Homo sapiens: one gene and its partner. The protein of the gene in region 1 interacts with the protein of each later gene in a pairwise test. Each region holds a gene or a part of one and is shown on either strand. Other genes may lie near its edges.

Region 1 (8,211 bases):
CTACCTTCTATATACTATGTTAGAAACTTTACATATATTATCTTGTTCTTTCCAGGTAGGTATTAGAGCCCCAACTTCTCTAGATAATCTGCTCAGAATCACAGCAGGGCCAGGATAGAAATTAATGACTGTATAGCTCCTAAACTCCTTATCTTTCCACTAGTCTAAGGGACCCAAACTCCTTGAGAAACTAAGAGCTATGAACTTTCTTCCCCCTAAAATGGGCTTACACACAAAAAATATTATATATAATTTAAAAGGGTTCAAAGATTCCCCTGAAGCCCACCCACTGCCCCCAGGAAAAGTCCCGCTGCTTCTCACAGGTCTGTTCAGTTAGTAAACTTCCTGAACAGAGTACTGCCATGTTTTCAACTGTCAATTCAAAAACACAGTACCTAGGGCATAGTGGGCACTCAGGTATCTCCATAAATACCTTCTGTATGAATGGATAAATGATAGAGACCATGGATGGATGACAGAGACCATGGATGGATGACAGAGACAAATCTTTGCATTCCTTCAGAGCCTATCAGGACAGTCACTCAAATGTTGTTAAAATAGCTTTTTAAATGCCGATTAGATATAAAAGTTATTACAGGAAATGTAGATATTAGCACACTTCCCAAAGCCTCTGAGATTATCATGGTCCACGATATGACTAGGCTTTGTGTCCCCACCAAATCTCATCTTGAATTATAATCCCTATGTAATTATAATCCCCCATGCTATTCTCCTGATAGTGAGTTCTCACAAGATCTGATGGTTTTACAAATGTTTGGTAGTTCCTCCCATGTTCATTCTCCTTCCTGCCACCTTGTGAAGAAGGTGCCTTGCTTCCCCTTCACCTTCCACCACAATCGTAAGTTTCCTGAGGCCTCCCCAGCCATGCTGAACTGTGAGTCAATTAAACCTCTTTCCTTTATAAATTACCCAGTCTCGGGCAGTTCTTCATAGCAGTGTGAAAATGGACTAATACAGTCCACACTCCACTTTCTCCAAAAAAAACTTTTAGGGAGCAACTACTGTTTGCTTCTTATATCTGCCATAGGCCAGCTACAGACCCTACAATACTGTACAAATGCAAACAAGATTTTTGTGTGATTTCAGAAGGAAGGAGATAATTGTCAAGGTTTGACTGCATGAATCTAAAGAAACTTAAATACTACAGGAAATATAAAATGCTGGAAGAGGAGTTCAACTCATATTTGGAAAAGACTAGTGGTTTAGAAATTGCATATCACCTGATTTACCTTATCAAGTTTTCAACTCAAATCTAATGAAAGGCTTTTTTTCTTGTGATATTAAAGATCAAACTTTACAAAGGAGAAAAAGTGCTTTAAGATTAACTGTGCTAAAATATTTATTCTAGAAGGTGAGAATTAATCACATTTTTGCTTCTGAGTTTTTGGTGAACATGGTGAAGTCATTTTAAATTTTTAGCTTTCTCATCTTCCAAGTACTGGTTTATAAAATAAAAGGGGAGACCATCCTGGCCAACATGGTGAAACCCCATCTCTACTAAAAATAAAAAAAGTAGCTGTGTGTGGTCACGGGCGCCCGTAATCCCAGCTACTCAGGAGACCGAGGCAGCAGAATTGCTTGAACCCAGGAGGCGGAGGTTGCAGTGAGCTGAGATGGTGCCACTGCACTCCAGCCTGGCAACAAAGCAAGACTTTGTCTCAAAAAAATAAAATAAAATAAAATAAAAGGGAAGCTTTCTGAGGGAAAAAGTATGTTCAACAGTACAACCACAGATAAGCAAGATTTCATTCATTTAGTAGGTATGCTCAAGGACCAGGAATAGCTTCCTTCAAAAAGAAGAGAGGATACATACCAGAGTATAGAAGTTTAACACTGGAAAGGTACTGTGACATTATGTTAAGAAGGTTCTGGAATGCCAGGCTAAGAAGTACAGACTTTATCCTATAGGCCTGTGATTCTCAACTAGGACCAAAGTTACAAAATTGGATGAAAACTTCCAGGTGAAGTATTTTTTTTTAATTATTAAAAAAAACTATATATATATATTTAAAATTGGAGGGAGCTGAGAAGGGAAAAATCAGGGAATCAAATCTCTCTGGAAAGAGAGACAGACATAATTACAGTTTGAAAAAGGAGCAGCACTTGGATCATATGTTTTGAATTGACTTTCAAAATACACATTTAAAATTTCCAATAATTGTAATGGTCATCAAAGGGAGCAATGAGTTTTTTTAACTTATATTTTTAATAATAAAAATTAAACCATGCTTCCAGTGCAGCCCACATCTCCTGATTGTACAACCAGTATGGTTTCCATTAGCCTACAGATGCTGCCACTTGAAAGTGAGTATGATGTGTTGAATGGACTGGATGAGGAAAGAAACTAGAGGCAAGTAGAGAACAACAGATATCACTTGTAATCACTCTCTAAATACCCACAAATTCACTATTTTTGAAGAGATACCGATGACATGATATCTTGATTTTATTAAGTCCAAAGCCAAAAGTTTAAAAGACATTTTATTAATACTCTAAGACAATGTCAACAAAGTATGATCCATTGGGTGTGGGATGCACAAATACAGAAGTTACCTTAAGAAACTGCAGCTAATAAAATCATATTTATTTAAAATATTTGAATTCAATGTAGCTCTTATCTTGTATTTTCTTTTTCAGTGGATACTGAAAATACAACGAGTTATGTGAGCACATCTGTGTAGGAGGGGAAGAAGCAGTTCTCATGATCGTCTAGAAGACAAACCCTTGGACCACTGAAGAATTCACCTGAAGAATAAATCTGTCTTACAGCATTAAGTTTGTCTACAATGTCTGCACATGCAATGGACATTAGTGCCTATTAAATGCCAAGCACTATATTAAGCAATGGGGATACAGGGATAATTAAGTCCCAGTCTCTAGCCTGGGAGGCGTTCAGTCTGGGGAAGACAGAAATGTAAATATTTATGAATCTAATGAACTCAGTGCTACAGAAACACAGAAGTATTTAACATATGAACAAAAAACCTACAGCCACCTAAATGTTAATGTCTTACTTTCAGTTTCATCCTTTAAAAATCCTTTTTCCAAGTTAAATATCAAATATTGATGGAAAAAAGTTAATATATTTTGAAAGTAAATAAAGTAAAACATTCTTGAGAATGCTTAAAGTAAATTTTTAGTTTACTGTCTCAGTGAACCATGTCTGGAGAGTTACTTAAAAGTTCACTTCCACTTCTGAAGTTAGTTGATGTAAATATGTTTAGGTGAATACTCATCAAAGGATGGATAAGAAAACCATAACTAAACCAGTGGCACTGGGTAAGCACTAAGATTAGCTCAAATGCAAGGACTGGAAAATATTTCCTATCACTCTAGCTTTGAAAGACAAATTAAGACACACAAAATCTTACAAGCTAACCACAAGAAGATACCACTTCACACCCAGTAGGATGCCTATAATCAAAAAGACAGCAACAAGTATCGGTGAAGATGTAGAGGAACTGGAACCCTCATATATTCCTGATTGGAATGTAATATGTGCAGCAGCTTTGGATAACAGTCTGGCAGTTCCGCAAAATGTTAAACATAGTGTTACCACGTGACTGAGCAATTCCACACTTAGATATATACCCAAGAGACCTGAAAATGTGTCCACACAGAAACTTGTACACAAATGTTCATAGCTGCATTATTCACATTAGCCAAAAAGTGGAAACAATTCAAATACCCATCAACACGATGAATGGATAAACAAAATGTGGTATCTATACAATAGAATATTATTCAGCCATAAAAAGGCCAAAAGTACTACGGATCAATACTATAACATGGATGAAACTTGAAATCATCATGTTAGGTGGAGTCAGTCACAAAACACCACATATTGTATGATTCCATTTATATAAAATGTCCAGAATACTTAAATCTATGGAAACAGAAGGTAGATTTGTGGTTGCCTGGGGCTTATGGGAAGGCGGGGAGTGACTGCTAATGGGTACAGAAAGTGAAGAAAATGTCCTAAAATTGATTATGGTTATTGTTGCATAACTTCATCAATGTAATAAAAAACTAGTGAATCATAGACTTTAAATGAATAAATCTTATGGTAGGTACTTATATCTCAATAAAGCTATTATTAGTTTTTTTAAACCTATAAGCTACAACACTGAATAAACAAATGATTAAAATTTTTATATTTATCAAGACTGCAACATAAGATCTTCCCAGGCTAAAGAGGATATACACATAGACAAGAAATAATAAGAAAAATATTCTCTAGTTCTCTCTTTAAAAAAAAAAAAAAAAGGCAGTGGAAGGGGCACACTCTCCTTCAACCAATCTTCCTCTAGCTCCTACCATCTACTTTCAAAATGTTAAAAAAAATGGAAAGACACTAAACCCACCCTTCACCCTATAATCTAGCTTCTTCCCATACCCCAACCCAAACTGTTTTTTCTAGTCACCAAAGCACTCCTATGTGCCAAATGGAATAGGTACTTTCTCAACCTCACCTTACCGGTCCTCCCAGCATTATTTGACTCTGGTAATAACTCCTTTCTTGAAACTCTCCCTGGCTTTTCTGACATCTCTGGTTCTCCTCCCTCCTCCTTGACCACACCTTCTCAGGAACAATCACTAGTATATCCTTCTTTTGGCTGTTATTTTAAGACTGATGTTCTTCAACCTAAAGCTGGTCACTCTATAAGTTTGTTGGAATAAGCTCATTCACTCCCATGCTGTCGACTATCTCCTACATGCTTATATTATGATGCCTACATCTTTAACTCCGTCCTGTCAGAAATCTTGAGCTCTACATTTCTACTGGATGTCTCAGAGGCACCGCAGTTTTAACATGTTGAAAATTAAATTTATCCTCTTCTCCCCCTGAAACTTCCTCCTACAATGTTGTTTGGTCTCCTCTACTTGTTTCTCCTCCCTCACTCCTTACTCTACCAAATGGTATTCTCTAGCTTGGGTGACAGATACCAAGCTAGATATTTTGCGAGTCATAACACTATACTCTTTTCTTCTTTACTACCTACATCTAATGAATCATTGAGACTCCTTTCTTAATTCTTATCAGATGTGTTGTATACACTCTATTTCCCCATCTCAGTTCACTTCAGGCCCTCACATCTCACTTCTTATATTTCAACAGCTTCCAAAATGCCACCCTTCATACTGCTATCAGATTCAACTTTGTAAAACACAAATGACTGTTTACCTTTCTTAAAAGACTCAGTAGTGCTCCAGAAACCCAGACTAATGATTCTCACCTTTTCTACCAGAACCTATCTAAGTAAGTGAAGGTTCAGAGTACAACTCAAGGAGCAGGCTGGAGAAGGTGAGATGGGGGAATGACGCTGGAGTGGACCAGCATGTCTATTTTCTTAACACCTCCCTACTTTCTCCATGTCTCTAGGAGTTACAATGCAGACTGTCCAGAATTGCTATTATCGGTCTGTAGAATAAAATCTAAGTATAGCATAGATGTAAGATCCTTCACAAAAAGACCTCTACCTAACTTTCCCAGCATTACCTTTATCATTTACCATGTATTAGCTCACTGGTTCTCAAAGTATGGTCCAGGACCACCTCCCCAACCCCCAGCCATCAGAGGGAGTCTGTGTGGAGTTAAAACCTAGGTCTGTCAAACATGAATGTGCACCACCCTACTTTATACATTTATCTCTCATTTTGTAAATATTAAAAGTAGAGATAATTGAGATCAAATTCTGGATCAGCCACAAATTAGCTATTTGCTAATTTATTAGCAAAATTAGCATGTTTTCAACATGCAAATAACCATCTAGGCAACATAGTTCTGCACAGTCTGGGTACCTTAGCTGTCTCCTCTTTAACAGTATGGGGCACAACCAAGGCCAGGAATAGACACTCATAGAATAGTAATGACAGGTGGAAAATTTCTATCCTCAATAGTAATCAAGAAATTCAAGTTAAAACAAGATATCAGTTTTCAACCATCAAATAAAGATCAAGAAAATTATAATATGAACACTCATACATTATGACAGTTGTATAAACTGACAAAACTTTTTCAAGTTTATGAACATGTATTAAATGTTTATATACGTCTACCTAGTACTCCTGGGAAGCTATCTTATGCAACAGTGAAAAATGTCAGTTTCAGCAAAAATGTTAATCACAGAATTACTATATGTAACAGCAGAAAGTAGAATGACCTAAATACTCAAACATAAAGAAACAAAATTAAGATATAAGATAGTTACCAAGTAGTAGGCCGGCTACGGTGGCTCACACCTGTAACCCCAGCACTTTGAGGCTGAGGCAGGTGGATTGCTTGAGCCCAGGAGTTTGAGACCAGCCTGGGCAACATGGGGAAACCCTGTCTCTACAAAAAATACAAAAATCAGCAGGGCTTGGTGGGGTGGGCCCATAGCCCCAGCTACTCTGGAGGCTGAAGTGGGAGGATCACCTGAGCCCAGGGAGACCGACGCTGCCGTGAGCCAGGATCGCAACCATGCACTCCAGCCTGGGTGACAGAGTGAGACCCTGTCTCAAAAACAGAACAAAACAACAAAACAAAACAAAACCAAAAAATATTAACAGAGGTAGCCTTTAAATGACAGGACTGTAGGACAGCTGGATAGAGCGAAAAGAGCATCATCACCAGTCAGGCAAGTGGAGTGTTCATTTGAACTGTGGTCTAAGTGTAAGGCATTATTATTATTCTATTAATTTCCAAATTTGGAATAAACATTATTTTATGATGGAACAGTTATATCAGCTACATTATCTCTAAGGCTCAGTCATAAAATGTTAAGAATTTAAAATGCATTTTTAATCGACATCAGAATTTAAAAATAATAGAATCTATAAGCTAATCTTTTTTTTCTCTTTCCATGCCAGGAGAACATAGTTCCTCTCCAGCCTTCCAGTCAGGGGAAAAAGCAGCACCAACTACCGGCTGTCTTAATTACAGCTATTGCTTATCAAGTCAGGAAATTAAAAAAAAAAAAAGCCCTATAAAAGAATAGCCTTAGTCATCAAATCTCTAATGTAGAATCACCTAGCTATACCTAGGTATCATGGAAGAAAAAGGAAACTCATTTACTCTTGGAGAAATGAACTCTCGGTGGCTCATGCCTGTAATCCTAGCACTTTGGGAGGCTGAGGCGGGCAGATCACAAAGTCAGTCAGATGAAAGTTCAAGACCAGTCTGGCCAATATGGTGAAATCCCATCTCTACTAAAAATACAAAAATTAGCCAGGCGTGGTGGCATGCGCCTGTAATCTCAGCTACTCAGGAGGCTGAGGCAGGAGAATCGCTTGAACCTGGGAGGTGGAGGATGCAGTGAGCCGAGATTGAGCCACTGCACTCCAACCTGGGCGACACAGCGAGGTGTTACATCTCAAAAAAAAAAGAAAGAAAGAAAGAAAGAAAGAAATGAACTCTCCAATAGGAATCCCTGACTCATCCCCAAAGCATGAACCCTAAGGCCACTTCTCCAGTACAGGAGTTCAGAGGCTGGGCAACCTGTCCTGATGGCCCGCATCACCAAACAATGCTCCTTCCTGACGGTATATGCCTAGGGATAACAAGGTGACTAGCATGCAAACAAGAAATGACCAGGGACCACACCATCTCTTCTTCCATAACCAAAGTAAGACGGTAAAAAACTAGTTTTAGGCCGGGCATGGTGGCTCACGCCTGTAATCCCAGCACTTTGGGAGGCCAAAGCAGATGGATCACTTGAGATGAGGAGTTCGAGAGCAGCCTGCAAATATGGCGAAACCCCATCTCTACTAAAAATACAAAATTAGCAGGGCGTGGTAGCTTGCGCCTGTAGTCCCGGCTACTTCGGACAAAAATTAGCCGGGCGTGGTGGCACGTGCCTATAATCTCAGCTACTCAGGAGGCTGAGGCAGGAGCATCGCTTGAATCTGGGAGGCAGAGGTTGCAGTGAGCTGAGATTGCGCCGCTGCACTCCAGCCGGGGCGACAGAGCGTAGAGCGAGACTCCGTCTCAAAAAAAAAACCAACCAACCAACCAACCAAACAACAAAACCCAAAAAAACTAGTTTTAAACATCTTAAATATTCAAAGTATTTTCTTCTACTTTTGCTAGAAAGTAGTAAAAAAGGGACTCCATCCAATTGCTGTAAATGACACCATTCAAAAGATACCAAGACAATAAAAACTCTCAATAGTAAAAAGGGAAAATGCCGTTTTCCTTAACCCTTTCAG
Region 2 (8,211 bases), about 21 Mb from region 1:
AATTTTGTTGGGGTGTTGTAGAACAAAGCAATCAGAAAAGTTAATCTGTAAATAGAGATATCAAATCTTGACATACATATAGCATAAGGAAATATTTGGTAATTTGTAGCAACTTTTGCTACAAATTTTCCTTTCATATTCTGATCTTTGTAGGATAGGTGTATATGTTTTGACGTGTTGCATATGAATAATGGGTACCTAGGGTTAAAGTCTGTGGAAAAGACGCACAGTCAGGCCGGGAGCAGTGGATCACACCTGTAATCCCAGCACTTTGGGAGGCCCAGGTGGGTGGATTGCTTGAGGTCAGGAGTTCGAGACCAGCCTGACCAACATGGTGAAATTCCCTCTCTACTAAATATACAAAAATTAGCCGTGCGTGGTGGTGGGAGCCTGTAATCCCAACTATTTGGGAGGCTGAGGCAGGAAAATTGCTTGCACCCAGGGAGCGGAGCTTACAGTGAGCCGAGATTGTGCCACTGCATCATAGCCTGGGCAACAGAGTGAGACTCCGTCTCAAAAAAAAAAAAAAAAAAAAGAAAGGAAGATGCACAATCAGACATAGATATTCAGGGGCTTGTCTCTCCATCCAAAAGAGTTTATTGATCCTCGTTAGCTGAGGTGGGTTCTTGACCAAGATATATTAGACCAAGTTTAAAAAAAAACCTTTAAGCTAATCCTGACTAGTGAGCTCGCTGGTTAAAAAAGAGGAATCCCGCTTGACCATGTATGGTAGATAAAAGAGCAGTTACACGCCAAAAACCTAACTAAAGCTTCTGGTAATCTAGGAGCCTGCACTCCTTGTGAAGATAGAGCTAGACACTTTCAAATAAGGATAGACCCATTTCATAGGGTCTTTCGCCTCCTTGTTCTTCTTTCTGCTTGAAGCCTGATCAGTCTATCCAGTTTAATGGTGCCTTAGAGAAAGCATGCAGTTAACTGAAATTCAGCTTTTAAACTGAAGATCATTTATCTATGGTGTCTTCATCATCTAGATTCATTGCTAGACTCAGAAGCTGAAAAAGATATTTTCTTATTCAGTCATAATAAAGCTATGTAAATATATAGATTGCACTTGCCCATCAGGCAAGAAGGCATTTCTTGGTTGAACTTTATTTTGGGCCTCTTCTTTGAGCTGGGATGCCGTTTTGCCCCCTACGCCCGCCCCGTCTAGGAGCCTCTTTTCCTGAGAATCTGTGTTTCTGTAAGGGCCCTTGTTGTTATGTAGACTAAGACTTGTTGGTCCTCTCTAGGAAGCTTTTATGTAAAGGGAGAAAGTTCACTGTTTTCACACCCAGTTAAATTGCCAAACTAAGATTACAGTTCAGTTCTTTTCCCCAGATCATAGTTATCAGATCATTCTTCTCTTAGAAAACATGGATGCGCCTTTTCTAAGATTCTCAGGATTCACATCATAAACGGGGACTAGAAATAAAGAAAGATCTTGTATATGTGAACGAATTTCTCTAAGCTCACACTTTCTTATTAATATTAGGATAGTGGTGAGACAAGGAAACCCAGTTCTATTGTTCTGCAGCATATTAGGTCACAGAGTACAGAGGAAGCTTTTAGCAGCTCCAGATAAAGGACCTCACGGAAGCCCGTGAAGCCAGTGGGACTCAGCTACTGATTAAACAGCAGCTTGTGAAACCGAGCCTCTCGTTTTAGATTAAACAAACAGACTTGTATTTTGAAAAAGATTTCTAAAGTAAAGGAAATGCTTTCTAAAGTATGAATTACTGTGTTTAACAGCCTCTGGGAAAATTATTTTCAACAGGCTTTCTATGCAAATTATTTTAGGATTTATAGCTATAAATCTTGAAATTTGATTTTGGTTGGGATTGCTGCAATTACTTTTACTTGGTGATATTTTGGGGTTAACTAAATATGCTCATTTGAACAGTAATAGGAAGTCCGTCTGCAGTTTTGTAGCTGATTAGCACTGAAGTTATCAAATCCTTACAGTTTTGCTGATAATCAGTGTGCTGAGTGTTCCTGCAAATTCTCTTAAAAATTTAGAGTCCTTGGGCCCTCTCTGGCCCCTGTGTATTGTGTCACTTAGATAACAGCTGTAGATATAATTTTAAAAAGACACTGTCATATAAATAAGGGACGTCCAGGGTTCTGAAACAGTAAACAAATGAGTCCTCAAAAAAGTTCTTGTAAATGGACATATAGAAATAATCCAACTTTTTCGTTTAGTTGAGAGTAAAATTCATGAACCAATCCTAGCTGGAACAGAGTGTTGTAGGAAGAGCTTGGGCTTTGTAGTGAGATCTGGGTGTGAAGCCTTGGCTGCCGCTGGAATAGCTTAAGGACCCTGGGTCAGTTACTCGACCTCTGGGCTTAGAACTCCATCATTAAAAAGGGTGGCAATGACAATATTTACCCAAAGGGTTGTGGGGGGCACAGTGGTGTACCCTCTCACACTAGATTGCTTCATTGTTTCAGATTTCTTTGTAAATTTGGTTATCATCAAATTGACTAATGGCAGGTGGTATGGCATCAAAGCAGGAGCTCAAAGTGGTAGCTGCGTAACATGGCATGTCTAGAATTTACTGGATTTAAAAAATCTTTGTTGCTCAAAATAACTTTTTTATGGTGGATGGAGATGCTTTAGAGAGAAATCTGGTTTATTTAAGTCTAAGCTGGTATTGTTACTACTTGAAATTCGTAGTGTTGGAGAACTATGCTGGAAATTTTTAGGATCATCTGGGTTAGTCTGCTTTTATGTAATAAACCTGTTTTTAAAGTGGAAGATGACTAAAGCTCTTGCATGTGAACAGATGCTGATTTTAATTTATTTAAAGGAATCATGAGCACTTGAAAGTTTTTCTTGATCTTAAACACAATTGTGTATTGTCATGAGGCATCCCTGATTAACCCAGGTTGTAGTAGAACAAGCCCAGAGCTGATGCTTTCTCTTAGAAACCAGAGAGATGAATGTGACTGACGTTTTTCTTTCTCCCTCTCATTTTTCTTTTTTTTAAGAGACAGGATCTTGCTCTGCTGCCCAGGCTAGAGTGCAGTGGTGCGATCATAGCTCACTGCAACCTCCAACTCCTGGCCTCAAGAGATCCTCCCATTTCAGCCTCCCAAAGTGCTGGGGTTATAGGCATGAGTCACTGCACCAGGCAAGACTTGGTTTATCTGTAAAACGGAGAGAATAGTTACAGTCTTGTGAAGGTCCAAACCTGTGTTGTCTAGTACAATAGCCACTAGCTCCCTGTGGATGCTTAAATGTAAACGTTTTAGAACGAAAGCTTCAGTTCTTCAGTGGCACTGGCCACAAGTTAAGGGCTTGATAACTGCAGGTGGCTGGTGGCTACGGCATTGGACAGCACAGAAGAGAACTTCCCATTATGGAAAAAGGTTCTGTGGGACAGGGCTGGTGTGAGGCAGGTACAGTGCCCAGTCCTTGGTTAGGACATGTAAGGCCAGCTGTGATTATAATTATGATCATGATCCTGATTCTTCGTGAACTCCCAAATCTAGGCCCATTACAAGGGTGAGGGAAGTGAGAAGAGGGCTTTGAAAAAAGAAAGAAGAAAAGACAAAATAATTGTGGAGTTTTTGCTGGTGAAGAGATGAGAACTGAGGTAGCACAACCTCAGCTCCCCACTGCAGAACAGAAGAAAGAGACTTCAGGGAAAAACAGTCTTGCTCTGTCACTCAGGCTGGAGTGCAATGGCACAATCACAGCTCACTGTAGCCTCAAACTCCCAGGCTCAAGCAATCCTCCTGCCTCAGCCTCCTGAGTAGGTGTGTGTCACCTACAGACACTTACCTGTAGGTGTGTGACTACAGGTGTGTGCCACCATGCCCACTTTATTTTTTTGTAGAGATGGTGATATGGTTTGGCTGTTTCCTCACCCAATTCTTATCTTGAATTGTAGTTCCCGTAATCCCCATATGTCGTGTGAGGAACCCCATGGGAGATAGTTGAATCATGGGGGTGGTTACCCCCATGCTATTCTTGTGATAGTGAATGAGTTCTCACAAGATCTGATGGTTTTGTAAGGACTTTTCCCCCTTTGCTTGGCACTTCTCTCTCCTGCTGCCATGTGACGAAGGACATGTTTGCTTCCCCTTCCACCGTGTTTATAAGTTTCCTGAGGCCTCCCCAGCCATGTGGAACTGTGAGTCAATTAAACCTCTTTCCTTGATAAATTACCCAGTCTTGAGCGATTCTTTATAGCACTGTAAGAATGGACTAATACAGCTGGCGTCTCACTGTGTTGCCCAGGCTGGTCTCAAATTCCTGGCCTCAAGTGATCCTCCTGCCTCAGTCTCCAAAAGTGGTAGGATTATAGGTGTGAGCCACCGCACCTGGCCCTTTCTCATTTAAAATCATGTGCTTTTATAGTCGACTAGCAGTGCTTTATTACTGTTTTAAAACTTTGTATTTACTAAAATGAGGGAAGGAATATTCTCGGAGGAGATGCTGGACAACCATCTCTGATCTAGAAGACTGCTCCCTCTAGGGATTTTAGATTCCATTATCAGCTTTTCTTTGAATCTTCTTATGAAGATACTGTTGCAGAAAACTGGGGAAGTTATGGTAAAATTAGCATGTCTGCAGAGCAAAATATTGGATTGATGTCTTTTAAAATTGTAGCAAGTGGCTAATTCGGAGCCCTGCCTTGGCATTACAATTGTTTGTCACAAAGAGCAGGCATATCAGAAAAGTAACCTCATTATTAAATTCTTTTTTTTTTTTTTGCAAAAGTTAGCTCAGTGCAGTGATTCCAAATGTCATTTATTGTATTGTGATTCAGGTGGGAAAAGTGAGCACTATTTATGCCAGATGTCTCAGGTACCCGCAGCCACAGCATTGATCAGTATCTTTCATTTTCTCTGCCTTTTTTTCCTTCCCCAACCACAAAAGAGTGACTCTGTATTCCTCTGCCCACCTGGGCCTTTGGTAGGAGGGGGTGGTGGTGGTAAACCTTCTGTTTAATTTTTGACAATTTGGTAGGTAGGTTTTGCATTTTATTATATGTGTTTTTTTAAAGTTTTTTTTTTTTTTTTTTGAGACAGGGTCTTGTTCTGTCACTCAGGCTGGAATGCAGTGGTGCAGTCATATTCACTGCAGTCTCTACTTCTTGGGCTAAAACGATCCTCCCACCTCAGCCTCCTGAATAGCTGGGACTACAGGTGGATACCACCATGCCTGACTGATGTAAAACATATTTTTTCTATAGAGATGGGATCTCACTATATTGCCCAGGCTGGTCTCAAACTCCTGGACTCAAGTGATCCTCCCACCTCAGCCTCCCAAAGTGCTGGGATTACAGGCATGAGCCACTGCACCTGGGTAGTTTTAATATTTTAAAAGGCTTGAGTTACCATCAGGTCAAATTAGGTGTGCAGGACCTTGTGCTATGGCTAAAGTAGCCCCTGTCTCCCTGCATCTGGTGAAGGGAGACGGTCGCATCGGGGTGTCTGCTGCAGCGCATCTGTTGTTGTTCCTGCCTCCACCCTCCACAGCACTTTTTTCAGAGCTAACTTGATCTGCCTATCGCTTGCAAAATATTCCATGCAAATTCCCATCTTCTGGCTCTCCATATATTCTCCCTGTTTGCAATTGCCTCTTTTCCTGCTTCTGTAAGTGCTGCCATCTTTTTATTTTTTTTAAAACCTCTTTGCGGACCCACCTTCCCTACTGAGTTATTGATCCTGGCCCAGCCCTTAGAGATTCCTTCCCTTGGTGAACTTGAGAGTGTATACCTGTGGAGCAAGATGTTTCATGGGGTGCCAGACGAAAACATTGGAACTGATGTTTATTCTCATTTCATCCTCTTAAAAGGTCAACTTATGTGATGTTTTAAGGTATAGAATGTGTGGTACACTAACACATTTTTTGATTTATAAATGACATGGGACGGAAAGAACATAAAATGTACTGCCTGGGTACAGTGGCTCATGCCTGTAATCCCAGCACGGTGGGAGGTCGAGGTGGGTGGATCACGTGAGGTCAGGAGTTCAAGACCAGCCTGGACAACACGGAGAAACCCCGTCTATACTAAAAAACACAAAAATTAGCTGGGTATGGTGGCACACTCCTAAAGTCTCAGCTACTCAGGAGGCTGAGGCAGGAGAGTCGCTTGAACCCAGGAGGCAGAGGTTGCAGTGAGCCGAGATCATGCCATTGCACACCAGCCTGGGCGACAGAGCGAGACTCAAAGAAAGAGAAAAAGAAAGAAGAAAGAAAGAGAAGAAAAAAAGAAAAGAAGGAAGGGAGGGCGGGAGAGAGGAGAGAGAAATTACTGCTGGCTGAAATCAAGAAAGGTTTGGTTTTGGGCCGGGTGCTGTGGCTCACACCTGTAATCTCAGCACTTTGGGAGGCCGAGGCGGGCGGGTCACGAGGTCAAGAGATTGAGACCATCCTGGCCAACATGGTGAAACCCCGTCTCTACTAAAAAGTCAGCTGAGTGTGGTGGCGGGCACTTATAGTCCCAGCTACTCAGGAGGCTGAGGTTGAACCCGGGAGGCGGAGGTTGCAGTGAGCTGAGATCGCACCACTGTGCCCAGGCCTAGTGACAGAGCAAGACTCCATCTCAAAAAAAGCAAAAAAAGAAAGGTTTGGTTTCATCATACCAGTCTACTACTTGCACTTAATAAATACCAAATACCACTTTATATCTTCATATCATTGGTTTTTTGTTTGTTTGTTTAAGAGACAAAGTCTTGCTCTGTTGCCCAGGCTGGAGTGCAGTGAACTGTCATGGTTTACTGCATCCCTGAACTCCTAGGCTCAAGCAGTCCTCCCATGTCAGCTCCTGAGTAGCTGGGACTATAGGCGCATGTAACCATGCTTGGCCAATTTTTACTTTTTGTAGAGATGGTCTACAAAAGTAAAGTTGCCATGTTGCCCAGGCTGGTCTCAAACTCCTGGCCTCAAGCAGTCCTCTGGCTTCGGCCTCCCACGGTGTTGGGATTATAGGTGTGAGCCACAGTGTCCGGCCTACATCATTGTTTAAGTCCTGTCTCTTTACCTAGTTTGCAAGGACCGTGTCTTATATCCTTGGGATAGCACATTTTTGGGATTGGTGTTTGGATGGTATGTCACAGGTTGTAGATGCTCTGTCAGCATTTGTAACTGAGGATGATGAAGATGATACTAGAGAACTAAGTTCTCCAAACCAGTACCTCAGTGTGTGTCTGTGTGTGTGTGTGTGCATGTGCGTGTGTTTGTGCGTGTGTGTGTGTGTTTGTGTCCGCGTGTGTGTGTGTGAAGGAGAGGGTATGAGCTGAAGCCTCTCATTCTCTTGCGGACTTGACTTCCCATGCAGCCACAGACCTTCACCTGGGATGAGGCCATTTATAGTTTTTTTTTTATTAAAACCTTTTTCTTTCACAACAATTTTAGATTTACAGAAACATTGCAAAGATAGTACAGAGTGTTCCTGTGTATCTTTTACCCAGTCCCTGTTGTTAACATCCTATATTAATGTAGTACATTTGTCACAACTAAGGAACAAGTATTAATATATTGCTATTAAATAAGTCCACAGCTTGTTCAGTTTCTTTAATATTTCTCTAGTGTCTTTTTTTCTCTTCCAGGAAACCACATTACATTTAGTAGTTATGCCCCTTGGGCTCCCCCAGTCCATTCCTTGTTTAGAGTGACCTGGACAGCTTTGAGGAGTACTGACTGGTCAGATATTTTGTAGAATGTCCCTCAACTGGGATTTGTCTGATGTTTTTCTCACGATTAGACTGGGGGTGTGGGTTTCTGGGAGGAAGACCACAGAGTTAAAGTGCCATTCTCATCACATCACATCAAGGGTGTGTGCACACAACATCACACAGCATGACTTGTCACTTGATCACCTGGCTGAGTAGTGTTTGTCAGCTTTCACCCTGTAAAGTTACTCTGTCCTCCCCTCCCCATGGTGTACGAGTGCAGGGTCAACACTTAATGAGTGGCAAGCTGTGCTCCACCTCTTTGCAAGGAAGTGTCTGTAGACATTCTTTGGAGTTCTGTTGAAGAGACTCGCGTATTCTCTTCTTTTCTTTTTTTCTTCCTCTTCCCCTTCCCTTTCCTTGACAGGTCTTGCTCTGTAGTCCAAACTGGAGTGCAGTAGCACAGTCATGACTCACTGCAGCCTTGAACTCCCGGGCCCATGCGATCCTCTGTTTATTTCTTTATTCAAGCATTTACTTATGTCAGTGTGGATGCATGGATATTTATTTTATACTTCGAGTTGA

The links.
Region 2: the proteins of PTPN12 (region 1) and LMTK2 interact in a two-hybrid assay, tested with the Homo sapiens proteins (one study listed by BioGRID and IntAct).

The regions. Positions count from the first base shown.
Region 1 is NC_000007.14:77,539,421-77,547,631, reverse strand, and holds part of PTPN12 (tyrosine-protein phosphatase non-receptor type 12), read right to left. Parts: intron 1-8,211. UniProt on the Homo sapiens protein: Dephosphorylates a range of proteins, and thereby regulates cellular signaling cascades. Dephosphorylates cellular tyrosine kinases, such as ERBB2 and PTK2B/PYK2, and thereby regulates signaling via ERBB2 and PTK2B/PYK2.
Region 2 is NC_000007.14:98,109,229-98,117,439, forward strand, and holds part of LMTK2 (serine/threonine-protein kinase LMTK2 precursor), read left to right. Parts: intron 1-8,211. UniProt on the Homo sapiens protein: Phosphorylates PPP1C, phosphorylase b and CFTR.